Regions from separate parts of the Homo sapiens genome. Here region 2 is linked to region 1. The links come from fine-mapping of genetic effects on gene expression. A gene starts in region 1. The other region holds a variant in brackets. All regions are shown on one strand. Distances are between the middles of the regions. Region 1 holds the start of RELL1 (RELT like 1). Region 2 overlaps RELL1 (RELT like 1).

What was found.
Region 2: its variant is fine-mapped to the expression of RELL1 in whole blood (TOPMed, PIP above 0.99).

Annotation. Positions count from the first base shown.
Region 1 is chr4:37,681,326-37,689,660 of GRCh38, reverse strand. RELL1 (RELT like 1) reads left to right here and starts at 3,285. Exons shown (of 7, transcript NM_001085400.2): 1 at 3,285-3,461. The coding sequence starts at 3,374. RefSeq lists silencers at 2,587-2,896, 3,077-3,746 and an enhancer at 6,838-6,887.
Region 2 is chr4:37,608,635-37,616,969 of GRCh38, reverse strand. It overlaps RELL1 (RELT like 1), which reads left to right. Exons shown (of 7, transcript NM_001085400.2): 7 at 3,628-6,336. Among named protein-coding and RNA genes, the nearest start is that of RELL1, 74 kb to the left of the region's middle. The variant C/T (reference allele first, on the strand shown) is at 4,978.

The DNA.
Region 1 (8,335 bases):
CAATGAAGGAATATGAGAACAATACTTTAGATTGCAAAAGAGGAGCTAGTTGGCTGGAGTTCTGCATTTCAGAGGCAGAATAGTGCAAGAGGAGGTTGCAAGTGTGGGCCCAAGGGAGCTGATCCTGGATTTGCATCCTGGTGGTGCCAGGGAGAGGCCATGTGACTCAGGTAAATGCCCTAATCCCTCAGCTTTGAAGTGAGGAGTGTTAACAATGATTCCCTAAATATAAAATCATTGTGAGGAATTGATGAAAGAATACAAAAAGAGTTCCCACCATAGGATTGGGCTAAATCTAAGGGCAGAATGAGGATTATTGTTTTTAATTAATGACAGTTATTCTTAAGAATTATTAAAACTCTACTTTTGTTTCTGAAAAAATGGAAATACAACTTAGTTTTAAGATTTCCATTTTATGTCCTCAGAAGAAATATGACATTCCCTTCATAATAGAGAATAGAAGTTCCATTACATTGGGGTTCTTACTTTTAAAATAAAACAGTGGATTTTTAGATATACATATGTAGAAGCTATTTAAATTGTATGAATAAATCTGTAGGGTTAAGGATATGGAAAATAATTTAAGCTTGATTTTCTTTCTTTCCTCTCTCCTTCCCTTCTTCACTTTCCTCCGTCCCTCCCCCTCTCTTCCTCCTACCCTTCCTTCATTCCTTTAACAAGACATACAAATGCATGTATACGGGGTACGTGAAAGTAAGACATTTATAGAGAGTGTGTCAAGCAGGTGTTATGGAAAGTTTAGGAAGAGAAATTTCAGAGCCCTGGGTTTCAACCCTGGCTCATAGTAGATATGTCAGGCAGATCACTTAACCATCTCTCATCTGTAAAACAAAGGGCCTGGTAGATAATGGGTAAGGCTTAAGTACTAGATTTTTATATTTGAAGAGCCATAACAGATATACAATTCAAATGTGTTGTTAAAAATGATCCCGTCTTTCTTTTTTTTTTTTCTTTTTTTCTTTTGAGACGGAGTCTCGCTCTGTTGCCCAGGCTGCAGTGCAGTGGCACAATCTCGGCTCACTGCAAGTTCCGCCTCCCGGGTTCACGCCATTCTCCTGCCTCAGCCTCCCGAGTAGCTGGGACTACAGGCGCCCGCCACCACGCCTGGCTACTTTTTTGTATTTTTAGTACAGATGGGGTTTCACCGTGTTAGCCAGGATGGTCTACGATCTCCTGACCTCGTGATCTGCCTGCTTCGGCCTCCCAAAGTGCTGGGATTACAGGCTTGAGCTACTGCGCCCAGCCAAAAACGATCCCATCTTTTTAATACTAAGTCCAATCTGTGGGAAAAGAGTGAAACATGATTCAATTTTGAAATGACATTTTACATTTTGATTAGATTTCTTGATTCAAGCATTTTGTTACATTCTAACTTACAAAACCAGAGCTGGCTTTATAAGTGTGTGACCTGTGCAACTGTGTGTTTAGGAGGGCTCCACAATCGATTTAATGTTGTGTTGTTGCCATCTTGAAATTCTTAACGATTTTTGAACAGAAGGCCCTGCCTTTTCATTTTGCATTGTGCCCTGCAAATTTTATAGCTGGTTCTGGCTACAACTTCTAATTTATAGTTTAATTTCTAGGTCCGGGATTCTCTCCTGTTTTAGTTAGAAATCCACATGGATCGCTTTCCTCCGCACACATTCTCAATGTTTATGTTGATATAAAACTAGCAAAGGCTGCCTGCTAAGACTGCCAGACTGTAGGATGCGCTGCCAACTGAGCGCAGGACGCGCAGTGCCCTCCTTGGGCTTCAAAGGGCAGGGGCTCCATCCTTCAGCCTCAGCCATCTGTACTGTAGTGGCCTGAGCTTCTGTCACTGGCAATTCCCACATCAATGCAATGTTTGTAATAATAGTCCAGCAGACTGCGTGGAGGACTCGGTGAGAGAATAAATAGTCCTCTGAAAACTAGAGGTTATCAGTCACCTCAAGGATGAGACCCATCCTGTGAAAACCCACAGCCTCCATGCACCCCCTCTTCTTGCTGGTGTTGAGTATTTGCTCAAGTCCTGCCCTAATTTCCTTCAAGCAAATGCTTGATGGCCCAGTAACAACAGTCTCTACAGGGCAGTAAAAAGGAACTATTCAGAGAGAGCCTCTGAGTCCTATTAATGCTTGTGAAGATGATTCAACTTCAGAAAACACTTCTGACCTCTTAGCGTGTGCTGTCTGTCCTCCATCCAGGCGCTGAGGGCACAGCAGCGAGCAAACACAATGACAATGAGATAATTACAATTTATCATGGTGGCCCAGACATCGTGGGTTTACTCCCTGGCCTCTAATAGTCACCTCGCAGAGCTGATGTGAGGATGTGAGGAGATAATAAGCGTCTGGGCATTGAAAGACCTACTTTGCGGGAGTATGCGCAAGGTGCAATACAAGCACACGATTAAAAAAAAAAGGCAAGTTGTTCCTGAAAATGCATAGAGGTATTTTCCCCAATAGGAGCAGCTTAAATGCAAACAAACAGAGGAAGAAATTTAAGTTATCTTTTCTGCTAATTTCCAAACAACAGAACGTGACATCCAGCACAGCATCACTCCCTAGATCTGCAACCGAGGGGAATGCTAGTGGATAGACATGCCAACAGCGAAAAAAGCCTGTGCTCACTCCAGTGCTGGCCGCTTCTGACTGTCCAGTGCTTCTCGGGGCGCGCTCCCTCTTTCTCTTCCCACGCCCGCCTAGTCCCAGCGACCGAGGGAGGTTGCACCCGGGCGACCCTCCCCCCGCCCCGGGCTCCCGCGTAATCCCGGCCCGGCTTGGAAAGGAAGCGGGCCTGGCAAGTAGAGGCACGGCCGGGCCACGGTGGGCAGGGCGCAAGGGCGGGGCTATAGCCTAACTGCGCCGCCAAGGCTGCTGCTGGGTTTGGAAAGGAAGCGGGAGAGGAGGGGTCGGGCTGAGCTGTGGGTGGGGAAAAGGGCGGGGCCATGGATGGGCCACGTGCCTTCTTAGGTGGAGTCCGGGGCTCGGTAGGGAGAGGCGGGGCCAAGCTGAGGTGGGTGGAGAAAGAGGGCGTGTCCATGGCCTAGCTACGCCGCTGAGGCTGCTGCGGGGTTTGGAAAGGAAGCGGGAATGGCAGGGAGAGGCGGGATCAGGCTGAGGTGGGCGGGGAGTCGGGGGCGGAGCCATGAGTGGACCTCGTGCCGGCTTAGGTGGAGCCCGGGGCGCGCGGGGAGAGGCGGGACCGAGCCGAGGTGGGTGTGGCGTGGGGCGGGGCAATGGCGGGGCGGGGTTCGCCGCTCCCTGGGGCCCAGCCCAGCCACTCGATCAGCCCGCCGGCTCCGGAGCGGCTCTGCCTTCCCGAGCGCGGGACGCGGCGCCCTGGGGGAGGAGGGCGAAGCGACGCGGCGATGGCTCCGCGGGCACTCCCGGGGTCCGCCGTCCTAGCCGCTGCTGTCTTCGTGGGAGGCGCCGTGAGTTCGCCGCTGGTGGCTCCGGGTGAGTGTCCGGTCGTAGCCGGGGCGCCGGGTGCTGAGCCCGGTCCCGGGAGCGCGGAAGGAAGCGAGGGGTCGGGACGGCAGCCCCGCGGCGTCCTGCTTTCTGGCACAGCCGCGGGATCCCGGCACTGAACAACTGGCTGTCCCGCGGCGGTCCGGGCAGGGCGCGGTGCGTGGCAACGGCTCCCGTCCCTCCCCTCCCGCGGGCCCCGCTCCCGCCTTCCCTCCCTGGGGCCTCCTCCGAGGATCTGTGTTCCCCAGCGCTGGGCAGTGCGGGGCGTAGGGACCAGGCCTTCTTCGGGGGCGCTTCCTCCACGGCCGCTCGCCTCGGAACCCCGCGGACCCGTTTCCCGCCGCCCTTGTCCTCAAAGGCGCCGCGAGCGGAAGATCGTGACACAGAGCACCGGGTGCGCTGTCGGCGCCTCCTTCTCCCTTTTAAATACCTTAAAATATCCTAAAACCTGGAGGACTTTGAATCTCTTTCCACGTTTCCATTTATTTGGGTGGTTGATGGATTCTTGTAACAGGTCAAGGAGTCCACATTTCTTCCCATATATCCTGTATAAATCAGGCTCGGAAAAAGGGAAGGCGCGTTGGTAAACTTACATTTTTTTCTTCTTTTTGTTGATTCCTGTCGTCACGAAAGGAACCTTGTGTGGTCAGGGCAGGAAGCCACCAACAGAGATGCTAAAGTGTCACCAACGATGAAGCAGTTTTTAATTGAAATCAATCTTAAGAGGAGGTGTAAGTTTTATGGAAGTCCTATGTCACATCCTTGCTTTTATAATTACAGACACTAGGGATTCCTTACCACCGCTTCCCCTCTTAATTGCCACCTAACAGCTGCAGTTAAAAAAAAAACATACTTACTTGGCCATTTGGGGTTACTACAGCTGGGAATCTGACGTCAGCAAGCTCTTCCAAGCTTGATTTCAGCGGTGGTTCCTCCTCAGGCCCAAATAATAAGCAACTGGAAGCCTTTCAACAGTGACTGTCTCCTCCATAAACATCCATAAACTCTTCCTCCTGAGAACATTTCAGTCGCTTACAACTTTTACACTGACTTAGCAGTTTGGCCTTCACTTTTTCATAGAAACCAGAGCAGGTTGGAAGGGAAGGAGATGGATAATATTGTCTCCTGAGTCTTTTTAGCAGGCCCGTATTTCCGTTAGCCATCCACCTGGGGAAATGGCAGCTAGTGACATGTTTTACTGGATGGGACAATTTTTTTTTTCTTTTCCTTATTTTGATACAGGGGCTCATTTTGTCACCCAGACTGGAGTGCAGTGGCACAACCTCGGCTCACTGCAACCTCCAGCTCTCTGGTTCAAGTGATTCTCCTGCCTCAGCCTTCTGAGCAGCTGGGATTACAGGCATGTGCCACCATGCCCGGCTAATTTTTGTATTTTTAGTAGAGATGGGGTTTTGCCATATTGGCCAGGCTGGTCTCGAACTCCCGACCTCAAGTGATCCTCCTGCCTCGGCCTCCCAAAGTGCTGGTATTACAGGCATGAGCCACCATGCCCTGCTGGTTCATTTTGATTTTCATCCTGCGTTTGATTGCTGGGACACATAGGTGCATAATCAGGTTCCACTTGGATGTGAGGTTGGAGACATTCATTAGAGGGTTAGAGTCAGTTGCAACAGAATCTGGGGAAGAGTTTAATCTGGGAGTAAAATTATTAAAAATTCAGCACATGATGCATGTAATTAGCCATCATCAGCAGGAGAAATCCATCCCTAGAGTGGGTGTGTGTTTGGTTTGACCTCTGAGCAACACCCAGGTCTCAGGACTAGAATGTGACTGATGAAAGCTCTCATCTAATTGCATGACAGCCTTTTTTTTTTTTTGATGAAAATTAATGCGGAAGAAGAAACAGGTGTCTAAAAAGGAAAGGATACAGAGCACAAATTTGCCAGTATCTTGAGGCGTGTGTAAAGAGAAGATGCTCTGACCAGCCAACATCTGATCCCCTTGCAACCAAAGATGGTGTTAATGTTTGTACCTTGAGCATAGGGAAGTAGAGGGAAAGGAATGGGAAATACTGTTGAGTGCCTGCTGTGTGCCAGGCTTTGGGTTGAGTACTTTGTATGCATTTTTATTTTTATTTATTTTTTTCTTTTTGAGACGGAGTCTTGCTCTGTCGCCCAGGCTGGAGTGCAGTGGCGCGATCTCACTGCAAGCTCCGCCTCCCGGGTTCACGCCATTCTCCTGCCTCAGCCTCCAGAGTAGCTGGGACTACAGGCGCCCGCCACCATGCCTGGCTAATTTTTTATATTTTTAGTAGAGACGGGGTTTCACCGTGTTAGCCAGGATGGTCTCCATCTCCTGACCTCGTGATCCGCCCACCTTGGCCTCCCAAAGTGCTGGGATTACAGGCGTGAGCCACCGCGCCCGGCCGCATTTTTATTTGTTTATTTATTTTTATTTTTATTGTTTTTTGAGACAGAGTCTTGCTCTGACTCCCAGGCTGAGGTGCAGTGGTGCGATCTCAGCTCACTACAACCTCCACCTCCCAGGCTCAAGCAATTCTCCTGCCTCAGCCTCCCTAGTAGCTGGGATTATAGGCGCCCGCCACCATGCCTGGCAAATTTTTGTATTTTTTAGTAGAATCGGGGCTTCCCCATGTTGGCTATGCTGGTTTGTAACTCCTGACCTCAAGTGATCCGCCCTTCTCGACCTCCCAAAGTGCAGGGATTACAGGTGTGAGCCACCGCGCCCAGCCTTCATAGGCATTTTTAAACTCATTGCTCATAACCCTGTGAAATACTTACTTCCAGTAAGGCAACTGAGGCAAGAGAGGTTAAACAACTGGCTGAACATCACATAGGTACTGTGCCAGTCAGCATTCAGAGAAGCAGAACCACTAGGAGGTGTCTGTGTATGTGTGTACCTTTATATGTATCTTTATCTGGGATAACCCAGCCTGCTTGATTCCAAAGTTCATTCCCTTTCCACTGTACCCCACTGCTCTGCAGAGGAAAAATAGAATATGAGTCAACCTCTGCAATCTCGCTGAGATTCTAAGATAGTTTAGAACGTCATAAAATTGTAAGCATGTGGTTATCAGAAGTTGTCAAGTAGAGAAAAGAAGGGCAGATAGCTTCACGGTGGGTAGTGGCAATGCCTTTTTCACTTCCTTCCTAGTAGAAGAATCTCATTAAACTTGTCTCTTAGCAGCAGCATTCGAAACTATATACCACAAGCACCCAAAGGGATGATTTTCCACGTCTTGGCTTATTAATGTCCTTAAGTTCTCTGGTTACTCAACCTTCAGGTTTATTAGTTTCTCTCTCAGACAGTGGGCATAGCCCTCGAGTAAGGAGTGGGTGGAAGAGGTCCTGGGGCTGGTGAGATGAAAAATGCATTGTCCTTGGGCTGCAGGCTTCCCTCCAGCATTCTGACTCCTTTTTAGAAACTAAAGATAAGCTTTATTAAATTCTGGGGTCTCTCTTAGCCAGGTAGCTGCGAAGCTGTACATCCACATAATATATAGTGTTTGGAAAGTTTTGAAAAAGCACACCTTGGAGCTTGGGAGTCCATATCTACATTTAATTTTAAAAGGAAATGAAAAATGTGAGAAGTCTCTGTCAATTCCCTGCCCCTACCCCCTCTAAAAATGGAAATGAAATGAATCTATTTGGAAATTTGAAGAGTTGAATTTGAATGTGAGAGACCAAAGCCCCAAGTGAACAAACAACAGATTTTATTGTTTCTTTAAAAATGATTCTTTGGCCCTAATGTTGAAGTTTAATGACTTATTGAAACAATAGAGAAATGATTTAAAGCTGACAAAAAGAATAAATTAAATTGTCATTGGTATAAACTATTAGGTTGAGTGGTTCCTAATAATTTCGGACACTTAAGTGGTTGTAAAGATTTGGTGTGCTGCTGAAAGCGGGTATATTAATAATTCTGGTGTGATTTATAAAAACTAAAATCAGAATTTGGTGTTAGTACACTGTAGACACTTTACTCTTTTAGGAAAAAGGAATTCAATTTTTATTATTACCTGGTTTGTGTGCAGGCGGTAGTCTAAATACCTAGATCATTTCATTCTTACAATTAATTTCCTGTCAGTTATATACATAATTTTATTCCTGTGTTTGTAGATGAGGAAATTGAGCCTCAGAGAAGTTGAAAAAGTCACTCATGTGTAAGCTGGATTTTGTCATGGAGTCCATTGAGTCAGATCTGTTTGATTTTGAAGTCCATGCTTATTATTACTAAACTATTTTTTTGAGTAAGAAAATTCTTTTTATTCTAACATATTTGTAAAGAATCAGTAAGTAACAAGGTCATGGGATGCTATGGTGGAAAGAGCACCAAGCCTTAAGTCAGGGCCTTGGACTTGAAGTCAAAAATCAGAAGGAAGCCGGGTGCAGTGGCTCACGCCTGTAATCGCAGCACTTTGGGAGGCCAAGGCGGGCAGATCACGAGGTCAGGAGTTCAAGACCAGCCTGGCCAATATGGTGAAACCCCGTCTCTACTAGAAATACAAAAATTAGTTGGATGTGGTGGCACATGCCTGTAGTCCCAGCTACTGGGGAGGCTGAGGCAGGAGAATCACTCGAACCTGGGAAGCGGAGGTTGCAGTGAGCTGAGATCGTGCCACTGCACTCCAGCCTGGGTGACAGAGCAAGACTCCGTCTCAAAAAAAAAAAAAAAAAAAAAAAAAAAACAGAAGGAGACCCTGATGCCTGCAGCATATGGTTCTGTCCACCTCCATTTCCTCACCTGTAAAATGGGCATTGTGCCAACACCTGTCTCTCTGTCCTACTGGCTGCTCTGTCTTACTGAGCTCTTGTCTCTGAAAGTTCTGGGTAAATGGCAAAGTGGCATATATCTTTTATCCTGTGTATCTTTAAAAAATA
Region 2 (8,335 bases), 73 kb after region 1:
AGCACTGAATACTCTGTGATGTGATTCCATTAATCGATATCTGCCAAGATGCCGATCTACGCAGGCAGTACCATTGCAGGACCATGGTGTCACATGCACAGCCATCATAACCTGCAAGCGTGTAACTGCAGAATGGTCAGTAGAGCCTGGAACAAGATAAATCTCTAACTAAGAAGTGTGAGCCTTAAAGGAGCACAGATTATTAGTGATTGATCACTTAAATGTAGCTCCGGGACTTCAGTGTTAATATTGCTGTCATGTAGCTCTATAAACAACGTTCTCTATTTATTTTATTTAAAAGTGGTCAAGAGAATTATTAATCCGACTGTGTGGTTCCATAGCCTTGTCTTAGAATGAGATCAGAATTCAGTGTTGTGTAGGTGTATACTTTTGATCTTCCCAGGGACTGGGCCCCTTTAAAGTATAGGTTTTTAGCATCATTTAACTGTTCATGCAACCACAGTGATTTCCCCTGAGAGAGACCCTGGCAGCATTTCTAGTTTCTGCATTTCCTTTCTGTTGCCTGCCACACAGGTGGGGAGCAGAGAAGCGAGGGTACCAGAGGATTCCAGTGATGCTGTGGGTGTGTCCGGGGTGACTGGATAGCAGTGCAGCATGGAGGTAGCTTTGTGGTCTTCCAGGTCTTACTGCCTGGGATGGATTTCCTACTTTCCCGTTACTAATTGTGTGGCCTTTGGTAAATTATTGAACCTGGAAGCCTCAGTTTCCTCCTATGAAAATAGGAATCATTGACTTATGGAGTCATCGGGAAGATTGAGTTAATGACCCTAGAGTGCTTAGCATGACAGTACCTGGCACAGAGAAAGTGCTCTGCAAATGCCAGTGCTGTTATTATTAATCAGATAGACTTTTTCTTCCTTAACATCCTACACTTAGAGATTTTAGCATTTACTGTTCATTAATCCGCTTAGGCTCCTAGTTTCTTATAACATGTTTCTAATTTTTAAAGGGATCAATTTCTTTTTTTTTTCTAGAGAATCCTTTTTAACAAGGCATAGATATTTGTATGTATATCCTAATCAGAGACATATGGCAGCTTCCGTGGACCCATAGTATAATGAGAGGATTATGGCTTTATCTTTATAAGATTATGTCATAAGCAATAAACTCTAAAGAAAAAGACAACCTCTTCCTTTGTTCCAGATAAATCTTCTGGGCGGTTCTTAATTTTTATCCATCAGTCTTGTTTTATAAGCAAAATGGTTACACTTTGGGATTTCTGAATTCTGTTTTCCATGTAATGGAACTTCGCTTAATTTTTTCCAGCTTGAGTACTCACTTGTGTAAACTGTCATCACAAAATTTCTCCCGAAGAGAGATAGGCCAGGCTTGCTCAGTGTGGTGTGGTCCCATGTGATGGCAACTGGGAACAGTGAGTGGGTGGGTGTTTCCTCTCTCACCCACTCCTGTTAGCCTTTCTGGTGTCTCTGTGCCCACCCACACATGATTTCTGACTGCTGCAGGACAATATGGAAGGCACCTTGTAACACTTTTATTATTGTTCTGGGTTAAAGAAATACCTGGAAGGTCATAGTGTTGTGCCAGTAATGTGCTACCTTCTAATAAATGTGTGTTTGTAATTAGAGACCAGAACTGCAAGGGTTTTAATAAGATTAGCTTTCCCTTTTCTGCTTAGTTTCTGGTATTAGCAGTGAGGACTTTAAGCAGTGATTTGTATTTTTTACTTCCTCTCTCAAAGATATTACAGATAGTGCAGTTTTTATCAGCTGCAGAAGGCAGCTGTTGAAGAAAGCTAATGTGATTGTTGAGAGCAGAGAATTGGATGATGGTAATGACCAGAATAGTTAACCTTTCGGAGCATACTGATTGCTTTTCCTCGTATTAAGCGTTGTGCATAGGATCATCTCATGTCAAATCCCCAGTAACCCTAGGAGAGAATGCTACAGAAACAGCCACGGTTCCACGGCTGGGAGTAGGGGTCTGGATTTGAATCCAGGCCCCTCCTTTTTAGCTTAGCCTGTATTCTTGCATGCCCAGTTCTTAAAGCCGGTCAAATCTGTGCAAAACACTCAAAATGAGGAGTGTTTCTAGGTTGCAGTGAAAACTGTTACTGTGATGAAACATTAGTTTCTAGGCCTGACATCCCCCACCTTTGACGTTGTTATTTTCCTTGATGCAAAAATGTCTAGTTCTAAGGGAGCACATAAAGAGGAGACATAAAAACAGTGGAATACCATACCTGTTTTCTAGATAATGGCCTAGTTTAAGGTTTTGCCTGGAAAATTCCCTCTCATTTTTTCCTTTTTTTTTTTTTAGGGCCATTTTTATATGTCTCTACCTCTGGCCTTTCTACCTTTTTTCCCCCTCTGCTAGAATGTTTATATGAATTGACACCTACCTGAAAGTAGTTCCAGACTTGACTTTGTTCAGTTTTACAGTAAAAATCTGCAGTTCTTGTACAGTTTTGGCAATTCAGTGCAGGGTATTACGTATTTCATTAGAATTAAAAACTTGATCCATGCTGTTTTATTGGACAGTGTTTCCTTTTTAGCTAAGGGGATAAAGGTCCTTTACTCATCATCTCATTTGGGAAATAAATCTCTTTCTTTCTGTCTGTCTCCCTCATTCTTCCTCTTGTGCTCTGTCTCTATTCTCTTTGAATATTATATTGAATATAATATTGAATATTATGGTTGACCAAATGAATATTATATTGAATATACCATTGAATATTATGGATGACCAAATGACAGAAGAGGATAACATAGATAATAATAAGGTACATATCTTGAAGGACAAGCTGTAAAATAAGTAAAAAGTATGTTCTTCAAAACACTTCTAGCAACTTCATGCTATTTCTTCATATTTCTGCAAGCTGGGTCTATCTCTGGTTTTGTTTAGTGTTTATAGGGTACACATGATTTTGGCAGGTGGGAGAACGTTTCGTTCCTTAACCTTGTGTGGGTTCACCTGCATGGTATGTGTATTTCAGCATACACGGGGAGCTCTATAATTTTAGTCCTGTCCTGGGTTATGCCAGTCTGTAAAACAGGAAAGTAAAAAGTCACAGAGCTGTTCATTAAATGAGATAGTTATAGAAAGTCATTTGAAAAGCAGGGAGCTATTTTACAAGTATGGGCCTTTGTTTGTGATGTAAACGTAGACATTGACAAGGGCCAGTTGTTAGAATGACTTAAAAATACAATCCAGAACCCTGAAGGTACAATAAAGACCTAAGATGGAATATTTAATCATTGTGTTCTTACTTGAAATCCCAACCGTGCTGTCTTGGATGGTCAGTAGAGACTTCCAGTGAACTGGCTTTGGTGGGGCTTTAGAAAGACACCTATTGAAGGCACATCACATGGGAAAAGCAGGAGCAAGAGAGAGAAAGGGGGAGGGGCACATACATTTAAACAGCCAGATCTCGAGAGAACTCTTGGAATTAATTATATTTTACTTAAATTTCTTTAGCCTGAATTCTAGAAAAAAATGTACAGTGGTAGAAGGAATGGGGTGGGATGGGATGGGACAGGGTAAGAATAGATTATAATTCTTCTGTGTTTTTAAATATTCAGGCAGATTAATATGTGATATGATGCTTACCCTTGGTTAAAGATCTACATTTTTTGTTTTCTCTTGCAGCAATGACTTGACTTGAAGAGCTCTAAGAGACTGAAAACTTATATGAAGTTGCCTTGGGAATATTTTTATATATTTTATACAGTTTCTATCATGGAGTCAGCAGGCACGTGGATAAAACCTAAAAGGGAATATTATTGCTGTGCCATATACAGAATTCAGTTTGCTTTGAAACAAGTTTTGGTTGAAAGAGTCTGTTGAAAATTTTATTATACTTCCAGGGAAGGAAAGAGCTGTTTTTATCTTCTTAACCACTCCCAGCCTCTACTCTTCCCAGCCCCTAATCCCAGGCCTTGGTGTACACACTGTAGTTTTTCCATTATGATGAGTATGTGCAGTGATACTATTCATGTACAGTCTGAGCTTATGCTCAGGGGTGTGTGTGTATATGTGTATGCATGTGTGCACGTGAGTGTGTGTTTCTTTTTCCAGTTCCTGCATCCTATTTTGACACTGGTTGTAAGAAGATCTTGATACATACAGGTTAGCTGTTACAAAAGATAAAAGATGAATCTTCAGTGGTAAAAGCTCAGTGGAAATAATCTAGTTAGCCCTGAGGAGTTGATTCCCCAAGGGACCATGGAGTCAGATGGGACCAGATGCTAGACTTTGGATTCCTTGACCACAAATTCAGCATTAACTCCTGCCACCACCATGTCACTCCTACAGCACTTACACATTTTGAGAAGGTTTTTTTTTTTTTTTTTTTGAGGCAGAGTCTCGCTGTGTCCCCTAGGCTGGAGTGCAGTGGCACAATCTCCACTCACCTCAATCTCCACCTCCCCAGGTTCAAGCGATTCTCCTGCCTCAGCCTCCCAAGTAGCTGGGATTACAGGCATGCACCACCACGCTCGACTAATTTTTGTATTTTTAGTAGAGACGGGGTATCACTATATTGGTCAGGCTGGTCTTGAACTCCTGACCTCAGGCGATCTACCCGCCTCGGCCTCCCAAAGTGCTGGGAATATAGGCGTGGGCCACTGCACCCGGTTTTTTGTTTTTTTTTGTTTTTTTTTTTTTTTTAACCTTTAGCTGAGCGATTCTTGGTTAATCCATTGAATAAAGGAGAAAATGGTTGAAAGTCACACACACACAAATTTGTTTGGACAACCCAAGGCCAAAACAAAAGAACCCTGCTTCTCTCTTTTTTTTTTTTTTTTTTTTTTTTTGAGGCGGAGTCTCGCTCTGTCGCCCAGGCTGGAGTGCAGTGGCACGATCTCAGCTCACTGCAAGCTCCACCTTCTGAGTTCACGCCATTCTCCTGCCTCAGCCTCCTGAGTAGCTGGGACTACAGGTGCCCACCACCACGCTTGGCTTATTTTTTTTGTATTTTTAGGAGAGACGGGGTTTCAC[C/T]GCATTAGCGAAGATGGTCTCGATCTCCTGACCTCGTGATCCACCCGCCTCGGCCTCCCAAAGTTCTGGGATTACAGGCTTGAGCCACTGCGCCCGGCCTAGAACCCTGCTTCTCATATAAGATGGGCCTGCACCTACCTCTGGCATGTTTTTCTTTGTGTATTTCCTGTTTTTCATCCTGTAACTAATGCTCATTATTTAAAACACTCCAGTTACTTTTCCCTTTAGGCCTGGCAAACTTTTCTTTTTCTTTTTTTTTTTTATAACTGTACATTTTACAAAACACCTGAAAGGACCCAGAGGCATAAATAGTATTACATGATTTATGGTAGCTCTGGGGTGAGCTGTGGGGGAGGCCAGTTACAAGGTCTCCAAGACCCGCCTCCATGTCAGTGTTGGGGGGTGCCTTGAGCACTTCTTTTATTTCATATAGGAAAATGCACATCTTTCATTTGTCTCCCAAAAGATGATTTCCATAAAAATATACTTCAAAGTATTTACTGTACATAGACTTCAATGATTTTATTTCCAGCATCAAACTAAACATTTCTAACCTTTTAAATAAATGGGGAATTTAGTTTCATGAGAATTTTTACTGACAACTAATAAACACTGTATGTGTACATATTCATATACACTGTGGACTGGAGAAAGTCAGTATGGAAATAAATTTCACTGAGATCCAGAAAGTAGCAATATAGGACTTTTAGGGGTATGTATTAGTGTAAATAATATATGTGCAGTCTAGGCTAATCATTTTAATTAAAAACAAATAAGCATACTTTTTTGCTTTAAAAATATGCCCTCAAAATGGTGGGGGATAAAATGTAAGATATTCTTTAGCTTTAATTATTTTTCCATCTTATTCAAGTCAGAGCACTTTTTTTTAAATAGCAATACAACAGGCAAGAGAATACTCAAAAATATTTAAAACTGTATTGATACCAAGAGTATGTTTTAAATATTTTCTAATAAATACTTGAGCGGTTTTTGTCTGGCAGGCTTCCAAATTTGCCAAAATTAAGCGTTCAGTATTTTCAACACATACGCTTTTTACTGGTTTATACTGAACTATCTGATGAGAATTCCTGTGTTCCCAAAGCAACTGATGTTTACAGGTCTTGTGTTACTCCTCCTCCTTTCTAAGGATGAGGGAATCCACAACAGACTTTCTCTAGAAAACACTAATGATGGACAACTTTTTGGTGTCATCAATGAGTTGGCTACTACCTTGATGTAAAAATTTGTAAGGAAAATTTTCACCATTTCGAGTGTCAAGTGTATTTTTAACTGTCTGGTTTGTACTTTTATGACTTTTGTACTACCAAAGCGGAGTTAAAAATAAAAATGTTAAACGCAGTGTGTTGTCTTGTGGGTGATCCAATTATTGGCGCCTTGTACACTGGAAATACAGTCGTGGCAGTATAATTATTGAGCTTAATTTTTTACAGTGCTGAATTTCTTGTGTCTTGAAATATCAAGTGATCACTTGGCTGACTTTCCTCATGAGATTTCCCCTCCTGCAGTACCCCTTCCCCTAACACAGGCATACTTTGGAGATACTGTGGGTTCAGCCCCGGCCTACTGCAGTAAAGCAAATATTGCAATCAAGCCAGCCACATGAGCTTTTTGGTTTCCCACTGCATATAAAAAAGTTATATTTATACTATACTATAGTCTATTAAGTATATGCAATAATATTCTGTCAAAAAACATACATACCTTAATTTAAAATACTTTTTATTGCTAAAAAAAAATACGATAATCTGAGCCTTCAGCAAGTCATAATCTTTTTGCTGCTGCAGGATCTTGCCTCAATGTTGAAGGCTACTGACCAGGGTGGTGGTTACTGAAGGTTGGGGTGGCTGTGGCAATTTCTTAAAATAACACAGTGATAAAGTTTGCTGCACTGATTGACCTCACCTTTCATGAAAGTTTTCTCTATAGCATGCAGTACTGTTTGATAGCATTTTATCACAGTAGAACATCTTTCAAAATTGGAGTCAATCATCTCAAAATCTGATGCTGCTTTATCAACTAAGTTTATGTATTATTATATTCTAAATCCTTTGCTGTCATTTCAACAGTGTTCACAGCATCTTCACCAGGAGTAGATGCCATCTCAGGAAACCACTTTCTTTCATCATCTGTTAAGCAATTCCTCATCTATTCAAGTTTTATCATGAGATGGCAGCAATTCAGTTCAATCTTCATGCTCACTTCTGATTCTAGTTCTGCTGCTGTTTCCACCACATCTGCAGTGACTTCCTCCACTGAAGTCTTGAACCCCTCCAAGTCATCTGTGAGGGTTGGAATCAACTTCCAGACTCCTGTTAATGTCTCTATTTTTACCTCCTGTGAATCAAAAATGTTCTTAATGGCATCTAGAATGGTGAATTCCTTCCAGAAGATTTCAATTGACTTTACTGAGGTCCACTAGAGGAATCACTGTCTACGGCGGCTGTAGCCTTATGAAATGCCTTTCTTAAATAATTAGACTTGAAAGTGGGAATTAATCTATGGGCTGCAGAATGGATGTTGTGTTAGCAGGCATGAAAGCATTTCTCCCTTTGTACATCTCCATAAGAGCTCTTGGGTAACTGACCAGGTCCTTGTCAATGAGTTATTATTTTGAATGGAATCTTTTTTTCTGAGCAGTAGGTCTCAACAGTGGGCTTTAAATGTTCAGTAAACCATGCTGTCAACAGATGTGCTGTTATCTAGGCTGTTTACAGGCAGAGTCGATTTAGCATAATTCTTAAGGGCCTTATGATTTTCAAGATGGTAAATGAGCATTGGCTTCAACCTAAAGTTGACAGCTATGTTAGCCCCTAAAATGAGAGCCTGTGCTTTTGAGGTTTTGAAGCCAGGCATTGACTTCTCAACTATGAAAATCCTAGATGTCATCTCCTTCCAAATCTGTTTTTTCATTTAGCCACCTTCATCCATGATCTTACCTAGATTTTCTGGATTATTTACTGCAGTTTCTAAATTAGCACTTGCTGCTTCACTTTGTACTTCTGTATAATGGCAATGGTTTCTTTAGTTAATCCTTATGAACTGGCTGGGTGCAGTGGCTCATGCCTGTAATCCCAGCACTTTGGGAGGCTGAGGCGGGCTGATTGCTTGAGGTCAGGAGTTTGAGACCAACCTGGCCAACACGGCGAAACCCTGTCTCCACTAAAAATACAAAAACTAGCTGGGCATAATGGTGCACACCTGTAATCTCAGCTACTCAGGAGGCTGCAGTAGAAGGATCACTTGAATCCGGGAGATAGAGATTGCAGTCACTGCACACCAGCCTGGGTGACAGAGCTAGACTCTGTCTCAAAAAAAAAAAAAAAAATTAAATTTAAAA